2 separate regions of the Homo sapiens genome follow, and region 1 is linked to region 2. The links come from fine-mapping of genetic effects on gene expression. Tissue or cell type: stomach. Region 2 holds a variant in brackets; the other region holds the start of a gene. All regions are shown on one strand. Distances are from middle to middle.

The links. PIP is the estimated chance that this variant, and not a neighbour inherited with it, causes the effect.
Region 1: it holds the start of SRGAP3-AS4, and the variant in region 2 is fine-mapped to the expression of SRGAP3-AS4 in stomach (GTEx, PIP 0.99).

What each region holds. Positions count from the first base shown.
Region 1 is chr3:9,245,775-9,253,880 of GRCh38, forward strand. SRGAP3-AS4 (SRGAP3 antisense RNA 4) reads left to right here and starts at 3,982. Exons shown (of 3, transcript NR_146969.1): 1 at 3,982-4,047. SRGAP3 (SLIT-ROBO Rho GTPase activating protein 3) reads right to left here and starts at 3,872. Exons shown (of 22, transcript NM_014850.4): 1 at 3,111-3,872. The coding sequence starts at 3,177. RefSeq lists an enhancer at 3,651-3,890.
Region 2 is chr3:8,370,203-8,378,308 of GRCh38, forward strand. The region is part of intron 3 of LMCD1-AS1 (LMCD1 antisense RNA 1); the gene reads right to left. Among named protein-coding and RNA genes, the nearest start is that of LMCD1-AS1, 130 kb to the right of the region's middle. RefSeq lists enhancers at 1,552-2,084, 2,085-2,615. The variant C/T (reference allele first, on the strand shown) is at 3,966.

The sequences.
Region 1 (8,106 bases), 880 kb after region 2:
TTGGCCACATGTGGTGGCACGTGCCTGTAATGCCAGCTACTCGGGAGGCTGAGGGAGGAGAATCTCTTGAACCCAAGAGGCGGAGATTGCAGTGAGTCAAGATGACATCACTACATTCCAGCCTGGACGACACAGAGAGACTCTGTCACAAAAGAAAAAAGAAAAAATGCTTACAAGAGCCAGAGCTGTCCAAAGATGATAGACTACGTGGGCTTGGGAGGTAGTGAGTTCCCCATCACTAGAAATGTGCAAGCATATGGTTTACTACTGCTTCATAATCAAAAGGCTTCAAGTATCTGATGAGGCAAGAGAAGGCATGAATCCTTCTATTTTACAATAGAAAAAATACTGTTCTAAAACATTCCTTTGTGTTAGGTCTATAAATTCTTGAAAAAGACATAAAAGGGAACAAGTCAACAAAGAACTCAGCACTGTTTTTAAAAATCAAAAGTTCCCTTCACAAAATTCACAAAGCACAAAATCTGTCTGACTAGGTGGACTTTTTGCATCCCACTGGCCAGATGATTCCCAGGGAGAAAGGTAATTGGCCTCGGGCACTGTTTTTGGTGACTGGTCAAATGTTCTTCAGAGGCATGCAACAAAGGCAACGGGATGAAAGTAAGAGGGTAAACAATGGAACTCCATCAAGAGGCTGCCAGTCCCCCCACAAAACTGCCATCTGCTGCTGACATCAATCCTTCAAGGGGCAGCTTCGGGCAAACAATGTGTCAGGGAACACAAGCCTGGGAGAAAATCGGCCTTGTGACCTTGGGCAAGTCATTTAACATTAACTGGGCCTCAGTTTCCTTGTCTCTGAAACTGAGTTCACACTAACCCTACTGTACATTGTGTGGGCCAAGAGTAAGTGATGTCTGGGAGTTAGCCATAGAAAATGCAGGGCCCTAGACACACATCAATAATTATGATGGTGATTAACACACAGAATTTTAAAAGAAAAGATTCCAGAGGGTTTCAGGGACAGCCATATCCTGACCTGACCTTGTGGGTGTCAATTCTAAAGGAATAAGATGTAACTCCTTTAGCCAGAATGCAAGGAAATTTAGTATTTGGAAGAGACAAGATCATTTGGACACATTTCCTGATGAATGCCTGGTAATTGGTGTATTTCTGATAAAACTCAGGGTACTCGCTGCTTAGTTGTTAAAATAAAAGATGAAAGGTAAAAAGCAAAAGGATCAGCCAGGGCAATTAATGCCTAACTGGCCCTGAAGAAAAGTTCACTGGCCCAGTAGTAGCAATCCTTCCAAAATGAGATAAGCACATTTCCTACCAAGAAAATATCATAAAACCTGAACTGTCCAAAACTCAACATCCCCTTCTCTCTCAAGGCATTTTCATGGCAACCTTAATTTTTATAAAATAATAATAATTGGCCAAATTCATTTTATAAAACATAAACTCCCTAAAAAGAGTCTATTCAAAGATTGAAACTAGGCTTTTGTATTGAGCAGTTGGGTGAATTAAAATCTCTGACCAATAAAGCGCTTATTTCTAAATTTTCAGCAAGGCTGAGACATCGTAAGTCACTGTTTTCCACATTGAACTGAAAAACCAAAGACAGGAGACCAGGGAAGAGCAGGGTTTTCTGCTCCTCTTGCCCTAGGATATGCCCAGAGGTGATGAGCACGCTGGGCTTTTGACCAGGACTAAAAGGCAAAAAGACTGTTGGTGAGACTGGAAAAAAAACAGATCCCTCCCCCCGTGGCTGCTCCACTCCCAAAGTTTCCCAAGCATCTGAAGCGTGTATGGCAGCTGCGGTGCCCAGCCTTCCCGCTGCTTTTAAGGAGGCCACCCAGCTCCCTGGGTCATTGGGTCTTCAGTTGCAGCAGCGCCCAGAAGCAGGTGTGGCAACCTCAGGTTGCTTGAGCCCCAAATACCCAACTTGCTCAACAGCCTGTGCATAACCTCAAAGATAGGCCTCAAGGTCCGCTGAAGATGCATTTTGTCTTTACTCTTTCTAGGAGAGGCCACAACACACCCTGTGTCGCAGCAAGGAGAACCATGACCAGAAAGAAAGCGGACGCCAAGAGGCACGAGCCCAGGCTTCCCACAGGGCACATCCTCAGAGAAAGGAGGAGCCTGCTGGATGGAGCTTTTAGATTTTCCTTGCCAAAGCTGAGCCTAGAACGTGTAGGGGTGGGAGAAGCCCCAGTCTGGCCTGAATGAGGATGCGGCAAGCCCGCATTTAGCCATGCAATTGTGTTCCCTTTCCTATTTCGCCTGGCTAGCGTGGATTTAGGGAGCGGCTTCTGAAAGAAGTATACACCCGGTGGCACAGAAGGTGCAACCAGCAGCCAGAGGTCATCTCGCCCTCCCGGCAGGCTTCTCCTGGAACCCCGGAAGCCAGGCAGCGCTGACCAGCCCAAACGGCATGCCGAGGTGTTGGCTTTGAATGAAAGCTGATGAACCTAAACGCCAGGGCACAGAGTGATTGGGCTGCACACTGCGAGATAATACATTTTCTGCACCAAGCTCCCTTTTTATGCCCAAATGCCTGCATTAGTCTGGATCAATATGCCCCATAACAGTTAATCCATGGCAACCCAGGCCAGCCCAGAGACACCGACAAAGAAGTGCCGCCCAGGGATGCTGCCTCGCTGTGCACATGCATGTGAATTCCGGCCCAGAGAAAGAGGCGGAGGCAAAACCACCACCACCAACAGAAACCAAAAAGGGGGAGGAAAAAAAGAGCAGATGGTAAAAAAATACCCCAATATTAAAGGGCTTTTACCATGGCAGGGAAGGGGTGGAGGTAGTGACTATCAAAATGGCCTTAGAGTGACATGTCACCGCCAAGATGATGGGGTATCAGCGACACTCCTAAAGTCAGGCATAGGATCCTCCTCACACACCTGCAATGCAGAGACTGCTGCCCATTCCATAATCCACACTCCCAGCCCCAGCGCTATCTGCAGTTGAAACCAGTCCGGACTTGTGCGGCTGCCACTGTTACTCCTCACAAAAAGATTATTGATGCATAACATTTCATAATGGCAGAGAGGAAAACGGGGGGCAGCGGGGGATGGGAACCAGAACAAGAGAAAAACGAAAGGGGAGGAGAAGGAAAACTCTCCCAGCCCGCATCTCACCTTTTATTTGGGCTTCATATTCAGCAATGATCTCTTTGTCTTTCTTGAACTTAGTTTGAGATGACATCTTCTGACGTGGCCAAAGGAACTGACAGGCTGTTTGATTTATTTCTCCTTTTCTTTTCGAGTCCTCTCTCAAGCCCTGGTAATCACACAGCTCTGGTCGATTTCACAGGTTTAGGGACTAATCTCTTTCACTTGGCTGCAGAGCAGGGAGAAAAATCCTTCTCCTTCTGGAAGGAAAAATCTCTTTACTTGCCGAGAAATGGCTCTAGTAGCTTGCCCTGGTCAGCTCCTCTTGCAAAAGAAGAATCACCCTAGGAGCACAGTAACCTGCCCCAGATTTTCAAAGATTTTTCTTCCAAAAATAATAATAATAGTAATAACCAAGCGCACTCACACACACATGCACACGTACACACACTCACGCATGCACAGGCACACTCACCGGGACACGCACACAGTTGTGCTGTGCACACAGGCATACACACACACACCCTCACACGCACACACACTCGCTGGATCACTCACACACACACATCCACGAGAGGCGCGGCGCCTCTTTGGTCGTGCAGCCAGCCCCTGGCTTGCTTTTGAAGGCTCTGCTAAGTCGATGGTCAGGTTGCCAAAGGGCCGGTCATCTCGCATCCTCCCTCCCTTCGGTGCCTCTGGTCTGATGTCCAGTGAGGATCAAAGCCAGGAGAGCGAGATGGAAGTTTTCCTGCTGCAACGCTTAAGCTCCGGTGAACACAAGGCTGGACTGCTCGCCCTGCAGGGCTGGCTGAGCTCTCCCCCACTGCTCACGTCACTAGACTCCGCCTCCCGGATTTTATAACAACTGACACATTGTAGCCTACAGGAGAGCAGAACTCACTGCAAGCAAAAAGGGGAAGAAACGCTCACAAAAGGGAAGGCAGCAGGAAAAGTAATCGGGTTGGTAAGTCTTGAGAGGCTTCTGCAAACTCCAAACATTAGCACTTGGGTTAGGGATTTTTCTTCCAAAAACTTAAGATCCTCCCTTTTTTTGCACTGTGCAATTTAATTCAGTTTCTGGAATCAACAGCTATATGATGGTTTGTCACTCTACTGGGATAGTCTAGCAGAGGGCCTGACCCATGTAGGGAAAAGCATCAATATTTGTTGAGCAGTTACTTGGTGGCAGAGACGATGCGAGGAGTTAAAGGCATGCAGCTTAGCAAAGCCACGCAGAGCAGGCACACTGGAGGCAGAACAGCTGGGTGGGTCATTGGCTTGTGGGGCTCTGGGCAAATTCATAAGTCAGACTGAGCCTCAGTTTCCTAGATAGTAAAATCAGCTCTCTTTGGAGGCTATGTTATTCATTCTTTCAACAGATATTTACTGAATGCTTACTATAGGTCTAGCACCGTTCTGGGTACAGGGATACAGCAATGATCAGAACTGGCACACACAAAAATCCCTGACCTTCTGAAGCTCCCGGGGCTCCACATCACACAACTCCAGCAGTTTCCACCATTCATGCTAATATTCTTAGTAAAAAGCACCCCTGGAGTAGAAAGCATTGTGAATGGTGCCCCCTGGAGTTGTACGAGGCAAGAGGCCCTGGGAGAGGAAGACCAAAAATAAGCACAGTAAGTATATTATATAATATCATACAAAATGTAAAGTGCTATGGGAAAAAATATTGCAGGGTAAGGAACATCGGGAATGAGAGGAGCTCTTGAAAAGATCAAAGAAAAATGCAAAGCTAAGCTTAGCACAGTCTCTGGTGCATAGCAAGCACTCAATAAACAGTAGCAACTGTTATTACCCTTTTATATCCCCCAACAACCTAACAACATAGGTATAAGCACCACTCTTTCACAGACAAAGGAGCAGAGGCTCAGATATGGGAAGTGACTTACCCAAGGTCACCAGCCTTCCAACCCAGGCTCAAAGTCTCCTGCATTCTACAAGGGAGACCAAACCCATTTCATGTGGAATTAAGGTAGAATAAGATTCATTCTGTAAAAACTGAGTCAAGCACTAAAGAGTCGCTGATCACTGGAATTTCATATGCTAAGATTGTCACTAATGTGTATTGGCCCCTGACTGTCCCCTGAGATAAATGTTCCCAAATTTCTCAAAATAGGTATAGTCTTCCATTTGCCTTTTTCTGAGTCTATAATAAATGATTCTGTTTGGACTCAGAAATGAATAGGTTATCCATGCTAGTCCATCAAGGCTTCCTAGAGGACATGGCAGCTGCAGTGGGCGTCCCCAGGCAAGTATGGCAAAGGGAGTGAGGCGGGGCAGGATGTTCTCCTGGAGCACACAGCATGAGCTGGGGCCCACAGGTGGCAAAGCACAAGACCTGCTTGGAGCAACGACAGGGAGAAGTCCAACTGGTGAATCATGGGGCTTATTATAGCCTTGTACCCGGAGGCAGGAGGTCACCAGTTCAGAAATAGATGCCACTGGCCCGCAGCCCTTGCCATCACCCCACTGCCTCACGCCTCCCCTGGACATGTTCAGGCCCTTTGCTGTCCTCTTCTAACTAGTTCAAACCCACAAAAGCCCCACGTTACCTGAGAAAGATGGGCACAGAGATTAACATCCCTGCTGCAAGTCTAGATTCTTCAAGAAAAATGAAAGTTAAAACCATACACCTTGGAGTACGACAGACTGGATCCTCTCCTGGCTCTGCCACGAGCCTTGAGCTCATGAGAACTTGAGCAAGTGGCTCAACCTGCTTGTGTGCCCACTGGTGGCAGGAACTCAGTAAATGTCAGCTATTTTCACCATTATTAAAATTTTAAATCCACAAATAGTTCTAGGAGACCTATGTGTAGGGTGCTGAGCCATGGAAATGTCACAAAAATGTCACAAAAAGCCATACAAAACCAAGGCCAAAGATGGTATAGCGCTCTGAGCTGACACCTGGCAGAGGCTGGGTTTTGGAGTAAGTCAGATGGTGGTTTACCTTCTGGCTCTGCTGTGCACCAGCTGTGTGTGGGGCTCATGGAGGAATACACCTTCTCTGAGTCTTGGTTTCCTCATCTGTCATAGGGTAGTGATCCACCCATGGCACAGGATCCAACACGATCATGGATTTAAAGTGCCTGGCATAGAGCAGAAGTCTCACAGACATAATTTCTTTTTTAGAGCTGTGGAAATGTGTTCTTCAACGTTGGAGGTGGGATCTGGTGGGCAGTGTTTGGATCATGGGGATGGATCCCTCAGGAATGGCTTGGTGTCCACCCCACGGTAATGGGTTCACAAGAGATCTGGTTGATGAAGAGTCTGGGACCTCGCTCCTCTTCCTTGCTTCCTCACTCACCATGTGATATGCCTGCACCTTCCACCATGATTGGAAGCTTCCTGAGGCCTCATCAGAAGCCAAGCAGATGCTGGTGTTATGCTGGTATAGCCTGCAGAACCATGAGCCAAATAAAACTTTTTTTTTTCTCAAGATGGGGGTCTCACCATGTTGGGCAGGCTGGTCTCAAGCAATTCTCCCACCTCAGCCTCCCGAAGTACTGGGATTGCAGAGTGAGCCACCACACCCAACCAAATAAAACTTTTTTCTTTAATTACCCAGCCCCAGGTATTCCTTTACAGCAATGCAAAATGGACTAATACAGGGCCCAGCCAAGCCAGACCTAGGACTAGAGCTTGGTCTCCACAGATACCCAGATTGGGAAAAGGAAGAGAGGAAAAAAAAGAGGAAAAGGTCTGTGTCCCCTGAAAAATCCATCACCACACACAATAAACCCACATCATCTGGAATCTTCTATCCCCAAGAAGATGTGGGTGTGACCTGGGCAGGCCCCCAGCACCAGGTCCTCACCCTTCCAGTCCTCCCCACAGCCCACCCCAGCCCTCCCGCTGCCCTCCTGTGACTCCTCCTCTGTGAGCCCACTTTTTCCTTGCTGTCTGAGAACCAACTGCTATTCCCAATGTTTACCCTTCACATGGTAGTAACAGAAACCAGATTTGTCTCCAAATAAATGTGGTAGGTGTGAGGGGAGGGCCTCTACCATGTGATTTGATCTATGCCACCCACTAAGGACCAGAAAAGCCCCTGGAAGTGTTTATTCCATTTCCTTGGGGCTCATCTCCTGAATTCTTTTAGATTTTCCTAAATTATACTGATAGCTAGTATTTACCAAGTTCTCCCTGCACACAAGCACAGGGCCAAGCACTCTATGTAGATTTTATCACTGATTTTTTGCTACAGCCCCATGAGTCCAGTGATGTAAATCATCCTTGTTTTGAAGTTGGGTAAACGGAGGCCAAGAGCAGTGAAGCAAGTTACCCAAGATCACAAAGCTAGCTAGTAACTTAATTGCACTGAAGCCCAGGTATGGCTCATAGCGGAGCCCAAGGACTTAAACAGTGCACGATTCTATCCCGGAGGAATCAGCATAGGAATAATTGCTATCAAGTAATAACCCATTTTTTCATTCCCTATAATTACATTGTTTCAATACGGAGTTCAACGTAAAGTTTTCCATTTAAAAAAAGAATTTGGGGTTAAAAATATAAGGAAAACATGTCACAAGTGACCACTAGTGAGGCATAAATTACAATAACAGCTAAACAATGCAAAACTCACTGAACCGGTTTCTTTTCCTGGTAGAAAGAAAAAAGGCTTCATCTGAAGGAAAAGTGGCCAGAATAGTTTTTGGTTGAAAGTACTTTTATTTTTCTGGTCGAATATGAACACCTCCCCCTCGCCGAGATGACTAATTTTGTAACATTCTCCACGTTGCTACCAGCAAATACATCCTTGGGCAGCTCAGTGAATAATTCTGCCCTTCAAGCCCTGCTCTGCAAAATGAAAGCAACAAGCAGAACTCAGCTAGTTGATGGCAGATTTTAATAGAATTAATAGTGATGATGACAACATGCCTAATGTGTATATATTGCTTTATATTTTGTAAGGCTCTTTCATATCATTTGTCGTATGTGGTCCTCACAATAACCCTGGGAGGGGACGGAATGGCAAGTAGGGCTGTTTTCAATACCTGTTTCA
Region 2 (8,106 bases):
CTTCCTATCAAAGTGAGCATGGTCCCAACCCAGAGACCTTCAGAAAAAGAAATTCGAAGTAGAAATCTCAAATAAGTCATGTTCCAACCTACTCACTTCCTCAGTTGTTCCAGTCAGGCAAAATGCAGAACCGTTCTCCTAAACTCTTAGTTAATTCTAGATTTCTAGATTTAAAAAAGAAAAAAAAAAGAAATGGGAGAGTCTACAAAGAGAAAACCAGTGGTGTAATGGGGTCATGTAGTCAATTAAAAGCAAATAAAATAACCAGTTTGGTTATTTGAAATCAAATCAGTGAAAACACCAAGATATAAAACCAAAATAAAATATTAGCAATATCAACAGCCTGGGAGATCAAACCTCTTAATAAAGCAAGTAATATTTATATTTCAACTTGGGATTTACTACTGCATGCGGAAGGTTCTTATTCATCACTCAAATGTGAAAAGCACAGGCTTTGGCCACTGGTTAATTATTGGATTGTCATAAACCACTTCATGCCTGGCTGTCTTTTTTCTAATAAGCTGACTTTGTTAGTACTTTTATTTTGTAACTGCAGCCACCTGACAAATGTCCTCTCATACCTGCTGTTTCACAACAGTCTACTGAGAGAGGGAAAAAATTCCTCTATGGATAGAGACTTCAAATACCTTACCATCTGCTCCCAAGACATAGAGCTTTAAAGCAGTAGGGGAGGAATACTGAACTGCCATTCTGATACCATATTAGGTTAGTAAGAGCCCTTAAGGAAATATATAACTTTTAAAAAACATATATAACTTCCTTTAAACATATATGCAGAGTTAACAACCTTATCTTAGATGCATTTTCAGTGAATCCTGAGAGAAGCGCTCTCTTCAGGCTGATTAGTAGTTATTTCTGAGATCCTGTAATTATCAAGATGACTAATTTAATGAGCACCATGACCAGTGTTCACATTCCTCATAGCCGGGTATGTGGCGAGGCTTGCCAAGAAAAAGAAAGGGGTGGTTTCACAGTCTCCTTACAGATAACATGAAGATCAGGATTTTTTTGCTACTTCTATCTTAGTCATATTTCATGAGCCAAAATAAAAATGGTATTTTTCTGACCCCTCTGGGTTCTCACAGCACTTCTGTCATCCAGCCATATCTGTGAGTACTCACTGTATGTCATGGTGTTGGCTGATCATGGTGTCAGTGACTCACCTCTCTGTGTGGCCACTCTTCAAGACTAGGAATCCCTTGAGAGCTGAGACAAGAGCTTGTTTATTGATAAGTCTCTTATCCCTGACATAACATCTGGCACATTTTAGGTTCTATTCAGGAAGTGTTTGTTGAGTTAGCTTACCCATGGCTCTGCTGGTATGGGGAAGCCCATGCAAGTTGAGGGCAATGCTACCAAACTGTGAAATCCTGAAGGATGCAAGCCATATTTCTCTTCTGTGTATCACCAATGCCTAGCACATAGTAGCTGCTAAATGAATGTTTGTGGAAAGAAGGAAAGACTTCCACTAGGGAGTGAAAAGTCCATTTGATAATATAAAAATCCAACTTCAACCAAATATGTTGTGGATCTAAATTAAGAGCCAACAAGCTTTTTCTGTCAAGGGCCAGTTAGAAAGTATTTTAAGGACTGCTGGCAAGAAGGCCGAATAAGAACAGCTCCAGTATGCGGCTCCCAGCGAGATTGATGCAGAAGGTGGGTGATTCCTGCATTTCCAACTGAGGTACCTAGTTTATCTCTTTGGGACTGGTTGGACAGCGGGTGCAGCCCAAGGAGGGAGAGCCGAAGCAGGGTGGGGCATCACCTCACCGAGGAAGCACAAGGGGTTGGGAACTCCCTCTCCCAGCCAAGGGAAGCCATTAGGGACAGTACTGTGCACTCCAGCCAAGATAACTGGGCTTTTCCCATGGTTTTCTCAACTCACAGACCAGGAGATCCCCTCCAGTGCCTACACCACCAGGGCCCTGGGTTTCCAGCACAAAACTGGGCAGCCTTTTGGGTAGACACCGAACTAGCTGCAGGAGCTTGGTGGGGGGAGGGGTGTCCGCCATTGCTGAGGCTTTAGTTCGCGGTTTTCCCCTCACAGTGTAAATAAAGCTGCAGGGAAGTTTGAACTGGGTGGAGCCCATGGCAGCTCAGCAAGGCTGCTGGGGCCAGACTGCCAGATTTCTCCTCTCTGGGCAGGGCATCTCTGAAAAAAAGGCAGCAGCCCGAGTCAGGGACTTATAGATAAAATTCCTATCTCCCTGGGACAGAGCACCAGGGGGAAGGGGCAGCTGTGGGTGCAGCTTCAGCACACTTAAACGTCCTTGCCTGACGGCTCTGAAGAGAACAGCAGACCTCCCAGCATAGTGTTCGAGCTCTGCTAAGGGTCAGACTGCCTCCTGAAGTGGGCCCCTGAAGCCCGTGTATCATGACTGGAAGACACCTCCCAGTAGGGGCTGACAGACACCTCATACAGGAGAGCTCTGGCTGGCATCTGAGAGGTGCCCCTCTGGGAGGAAGCTTCCAGAGGAAAGAACAGGGAGCAATCTTTGTTGTTCTGCAGCCTCTGCTGGTGATACCCAGGCAAATAGGGTCTGGAGTGGACCTCCAGCAAACTCCAGCAGACCTGCAGCAGAGAGGCCTGACAGTTAGAAGGAAAACTAACAAACAGAAAGGAAGAGCACATCCACTCAGAGACCCCCACCCAAAGGTCACCAACATCAAAGACCAAAGGTAGATAAATCCACAAAGACGGGGAGAAACCAGCTCAAAAAGGCTGAAAATTCCAAAAACCAGAACGCCTCTTCTCCTCCAAAGGATCACAACTCCTCACCAGCAAGGGAACAAAACTGCATGGAGAATGAGTTTGATGAATTGACAGAAGTAGGATTCAGAAGGTGGGTAGCAACAAACTCCTCCAAGCTAAAGGAGCATGTTCTAACCCAATGCAAGGAAGGTAAGAACCTTGAAAAAAGGTTAGACAAATTGCTAACCAGAATAACCATTTAGAGAAGAACATAAATGACCTAATGGAGCTGAAAAACACAGCACGAGAACTTGTGAAGCATACACAAGTAACAATAGCTGAATTGATCAAGCAGAAAAAAGGATATCAGAGATTGAAGATCAACTTAATGAAATAAAGTGAAAAGACAAGATTAGAGAAAAAAGAATAAAAGGAACAAACAAAGCCTCCAAGAAATATGGGACTATGTGAAAAGACCAAATCTACATTTGATTGGTGTACCTGAAAGTGATGGGGAGAATGGAACCAAGTTGGAAAACACTCTTCAGGATATTATCCAGGAGAACTTCCCCAACCTAGCAAGGCAGGCCAACATTCAAATTCAGGAAATACAGAGAACACCTCAAAGATACTCCTTGAGAAGAGCAACGCCAAGACACATAATCATCAGATTCACCAAGGGTGAAATGAAGGAAAACATGTTAAGGGCAGCCAGAGAAAAAGGTTGAGCTACCCACAAAGGGAAGCCCATCAGGCTAACAGTGGATCTCTCTGCAGAAACCCTACAAGCCAGAAAAGAGTGGGGGCTAACATTCAACATTCTTAAAGAAAAGAATTTTCAACCCAGAATTTCATAACCAGCCAAATTAAGCTTCATAAGCAAAGGAAAAATAAAATCCTTTACAGACAACCAAATGCTGAGAGATTTTGTCACCACCAGGCCTGCCTTACAAGAGCTCCTGAAGGAAGCACTAAATATGGAAAGAAGCAACCAGTACCAGCCACTGCAAAAACATACCAAATTGTAAAGACCATCGGCACTATGAAGAAACTGCATCAACTAATGGGCAAAATAACCAGCTAGCATCATAATGGCAGGATCAAATTCACACATAACAATAATAACCTTAAACGTAAATGGGCTAAATGCCCCAATTAAAAGATATAGCCTGGCAAATTGGATAAAGAGTCAAGATCCATCAGTGTGCTGTATTCAGGAGACCCATCTCTCGTGCAAAGACACACATAGGCT[C/T]AAAATACAGGGATGGAGGAAGGTTTACCAAGCAAATGGAAAGCAGAAAAAAAGCAGGAGTTGCAATCCTAATCTCTGATAAAACAGACTTTAAACCAACAAAGATCAAAACAGACAAAGAAGGCCATTACATAATGGGAAAGGGATCAATGCAACAATAAGAGCTAACTATCCTAAATATAAATGCACCCAAAACAGGAGCACCCAGATTCATAAAGCAAGTTCTTAGAGACCTACAAAGAGACTTAAACTCCCACACAATAATAGTGGAAGAGTTTAACCCCCCACTGTCAATATTAGACAGATCAACGAGACAGAAAATTAACAAGGATATTCAGGACGTGAACTCAGCTCTAGACCAGGCAGACCTAATAGACATCTACAGAACTCTCCACCCAAATCAACAGAATATACATTCTTCTCAGCACTTCATCACACTTATTCTAAAATTGACCACATAAATGGAAGTAAAACACTCCTTAGCAAATGCAAAAGAATGGAAATCATAACAAACGGTCTCTCAGACCACAGTATAATTAAATTAGAACTCAGGATTAAGAAACTCATTCAAAACCACACAACTACATGGGAACTAAACAACTTGCTCCTGAATGACTACTGGTAAATAACAAAATGAAGACAGAAATAAAGATGTTCTTTGAAACCAATGAGAACAAAGGCTACCAGAATCTCTGGGACATATTTAAAGCCGTGTGTAGAGGGACATTTATTGCATTAAATGCCCACAAGAGAAAGCAGGAAAGATCTAAAATCGACATCTTAACATCAAAATTAAACGAACTAGAGAAGCAAGAGGAAACAAATTCAAAAGCTAGCAGAAGACAAAAAATAACAAAGATCAGAGCAGAACTGAAGGAGATAGAGACAAGAAAAACCCTTAAAAAAATCAATGAATACAGGAGCTTTTTTTTAAAGATCTACAAAATACATAGACTGCTAGCCAGACTAATAAAGAAGAAAAGAGAGAAGAATCAAATAGATGCAATAAAAAATAATATAGGGGATATCACTACTGATCCCGCAGAAATACAAACTACCATCAGAGAATACTATAAACACCTCTAAGCAAATAAACTAGAAAATCTAGAAGAAATTGATAAATTCCTGGGAAAATACACTCTCTCAAGTCTAAACCAGGAAGAAGTCAAATCCCTGAATAGACCAGTAACAAGTTCTGAAATTGAGGCAGTAGTTAATAGCCTACCAACCAAAAAAAGTCCAGGAACAGACGGATTCACAGCCGAATTCTACCAGAGCTACAAGGAGTTGCTGGTATCATTTCTTCTAAAACTATTCCAAGCAATAGAAAAAGAGGGAATCCTCTCTAACTCATTTTATGAGGCCAGCATCATCCTGATACCAAAACCTGGCAGAGACACAACAAAAAAAGAAAATTTCAGGCCAATATCCCTGATGAACATCGATGCAAAAATCCTCAATAAAATACTGGAAAACCGAATCCAGCAGCACATCAAAAAGCTTATCCACCATGATCAAGTTGGCTTCACCCCTGGGATGCAAGGCTGGTTCAACATATGCAAATCAATAAATGTAATCCATCACATAAACAGAACCAATGACAAAAACCACATGATTATCTCAATAGATGCAGAAAAGGCTTTCGACAAAATTCAACACGACTTCATGCTAAAAACTCTCAATAAACTAGGTATCAATGGAACATATCTCAAAATAATAAGCTATTTATGACAAATCCACAGCTAATGTAACACTGAATGGGCAAAAAATTGGAAGCATTCCCTTTGAAAACCGGCGTAAGACAAGGATGCCCTCTCTCACCACTCCTGTTCAACACAGCATTGGAAGTCCTGGCCAGGGCAATCAGACAAGAGAAAGAAATAAAGGGTATTCAAATAGGAAGAGAGGAAGTCAAATTGTCTCTGTTTGCAGATGACATGATTGCATATTTAGAAAACCTCATCATCTCAGCCCCAAATCTTCTTAACTGATAAGCAACTTCAGCAGTCTCAGGATACAAAATAAATGTGGAAAAATCACAAGCGTTCCTATATACAAATAACAGACAAACAGAGAGCCAAATCATGAGTGAACTCCCATTCACAATTGCTGCTAAGAGAATAAAATACCAGGAATACAACTTACAAGGGATGTGAAGGACCTCTTCAAAGAGAACTACAAACCACTGATCAAGGAAATAACAGAGGACACAAATGGAAAAACATTCCACGCTCATGAATAGGAAGAATCAATATCATGAAAATGGCCATAATGCCCAAAGTAATTTATAGATCCAAAGCTATCCCCATCAAGCTACCATTGACTCTTTTCACAGAATTGGAAAAAAACTACTTTAAGCTTCACATCAAATCAAATCAAATAAAAAAGAGCCCGCATAGCCAAGACAATCCTAAGCAAAAAGAGCAAAGCTGGAGCCATCATGCTACCTGACTTCAAACAATACTACAAGGCTTCAGTAACCAAAACAGCATGGTACTGATACCAAAACAGATATATAGACCAATGGAACAGAACAGAGGCCTCAGAAATAACACCACACATTTACAACCCTCTGATCTTTGACAAACCTGACACAAACAAGCAATGGGGAAAGGATTCCCTATTTAATAAATGCTGCTGGAAAAACTGGCTAGCCACATGCAGAAAACTGAAAGTGGATCCCTTCCTCACACCTTATACAAAAATTAACACAAGATGGATTAAAGACTTAAACATAAGACCTAAAACCATAAAAGTCCTAGAAGAAAACCTAGGCGATACCATTCAGGACATAGCCATGGGCAAAGACTTCATGTCCAAAACACGAAAAGCAATGGCAACAAAAGCCAAAATTGACAGATGGGATCTAATTAAACTAAAGATCTTCTGTACAGCAAAAGAAACTATCATCAGAGTGTACAGGCAACCTACAGAATGGGAGAAAATTTTTGCAATCTATCCATCTGGCAAAGGGCTAATACCCAGAATCTACAAAGAACTTAAACAAATTTACAAGGAAAAAAAAAACAACCCCATCAAAAAGTGGGCAAAATACATGAACAGATACTTCTCAAAAGAAGACATTCATGCAGCCAAAAAACATATAAGAAAATGCTGATCATCACTGGTCATTAGAGAAATGCAAATCAAAACCACAATGAGATACCATCTCACACCAGTTAGAATGGTGATCATTAAAAAGTCAGGAAACAACAGATGCTGGAGAGGATGTGGAGAAATAGGAATGCTTTTACACTGTTGTGTAAAAACATTGGGAGTGTAAATTAGTTCAACCATTGTGGAAGACAGTGGGCAATTCCTCAAGGATCTAGAACTAGAAATACCATTTGACCCAGCAATCCCATTGCTGGGTATATACCCAAAGGATTATAAATCATTCTACTATAAAGACACATGCACATGTATGTTTATTGTGGTACTATTCACAATAGCAAAGACTTGGAACCAACCCAAATGTCCATCAATGATAGACTGGATAAAGAAAATGTGGCACATATATGCCACAGCATACTATGCAGCCATAAAAAAGGATGAGTTCATGTCCTTTGCAGGGACATGGATGAAGCTAGAAACCATCATTCTCAGCAAACTAACACAAGAACAGAAAATCAAACACCGCATGTTCTCACTCATAAGTGGGAGTTGAACAATGAGAACACATGGACACAGGGAGGGGAACATAACACACTGGGGCCTGTCAGGGGGTGGGGGCAGGGCGAGGGATAGCATTAGGAGAAATACCTAATGTAGGTGATGGGTTGATGGGTGCAGGAAACTACCATGGCATGTGTATACCTATGTAAGAAAACTGCACGTTCTGTACGTGTACCCCAGAACTTAAAGTATAATTTAAAAAAAAGAAAATATTTTAAGCTCATGGGCTCTATGGTGTCTGCTGGAATTGCTCACTTTTGTGGTTGCAGCATTGTGACAGTTAATACTGAGTGTCAACTTGATTGGATTGAAGGATACCAAGTATTGATCCTGGGTGTCTGTGAGGGTGTTATCAAAAGAGATTAACATTTGAGTCAGGGACTGGAGAAGGCAGATCCACCCTTAATCTGGGTGGGCACAATCTAATCAGCTGCCAGTGTGGCAGAATATAAGCAGGCAGAAAAAT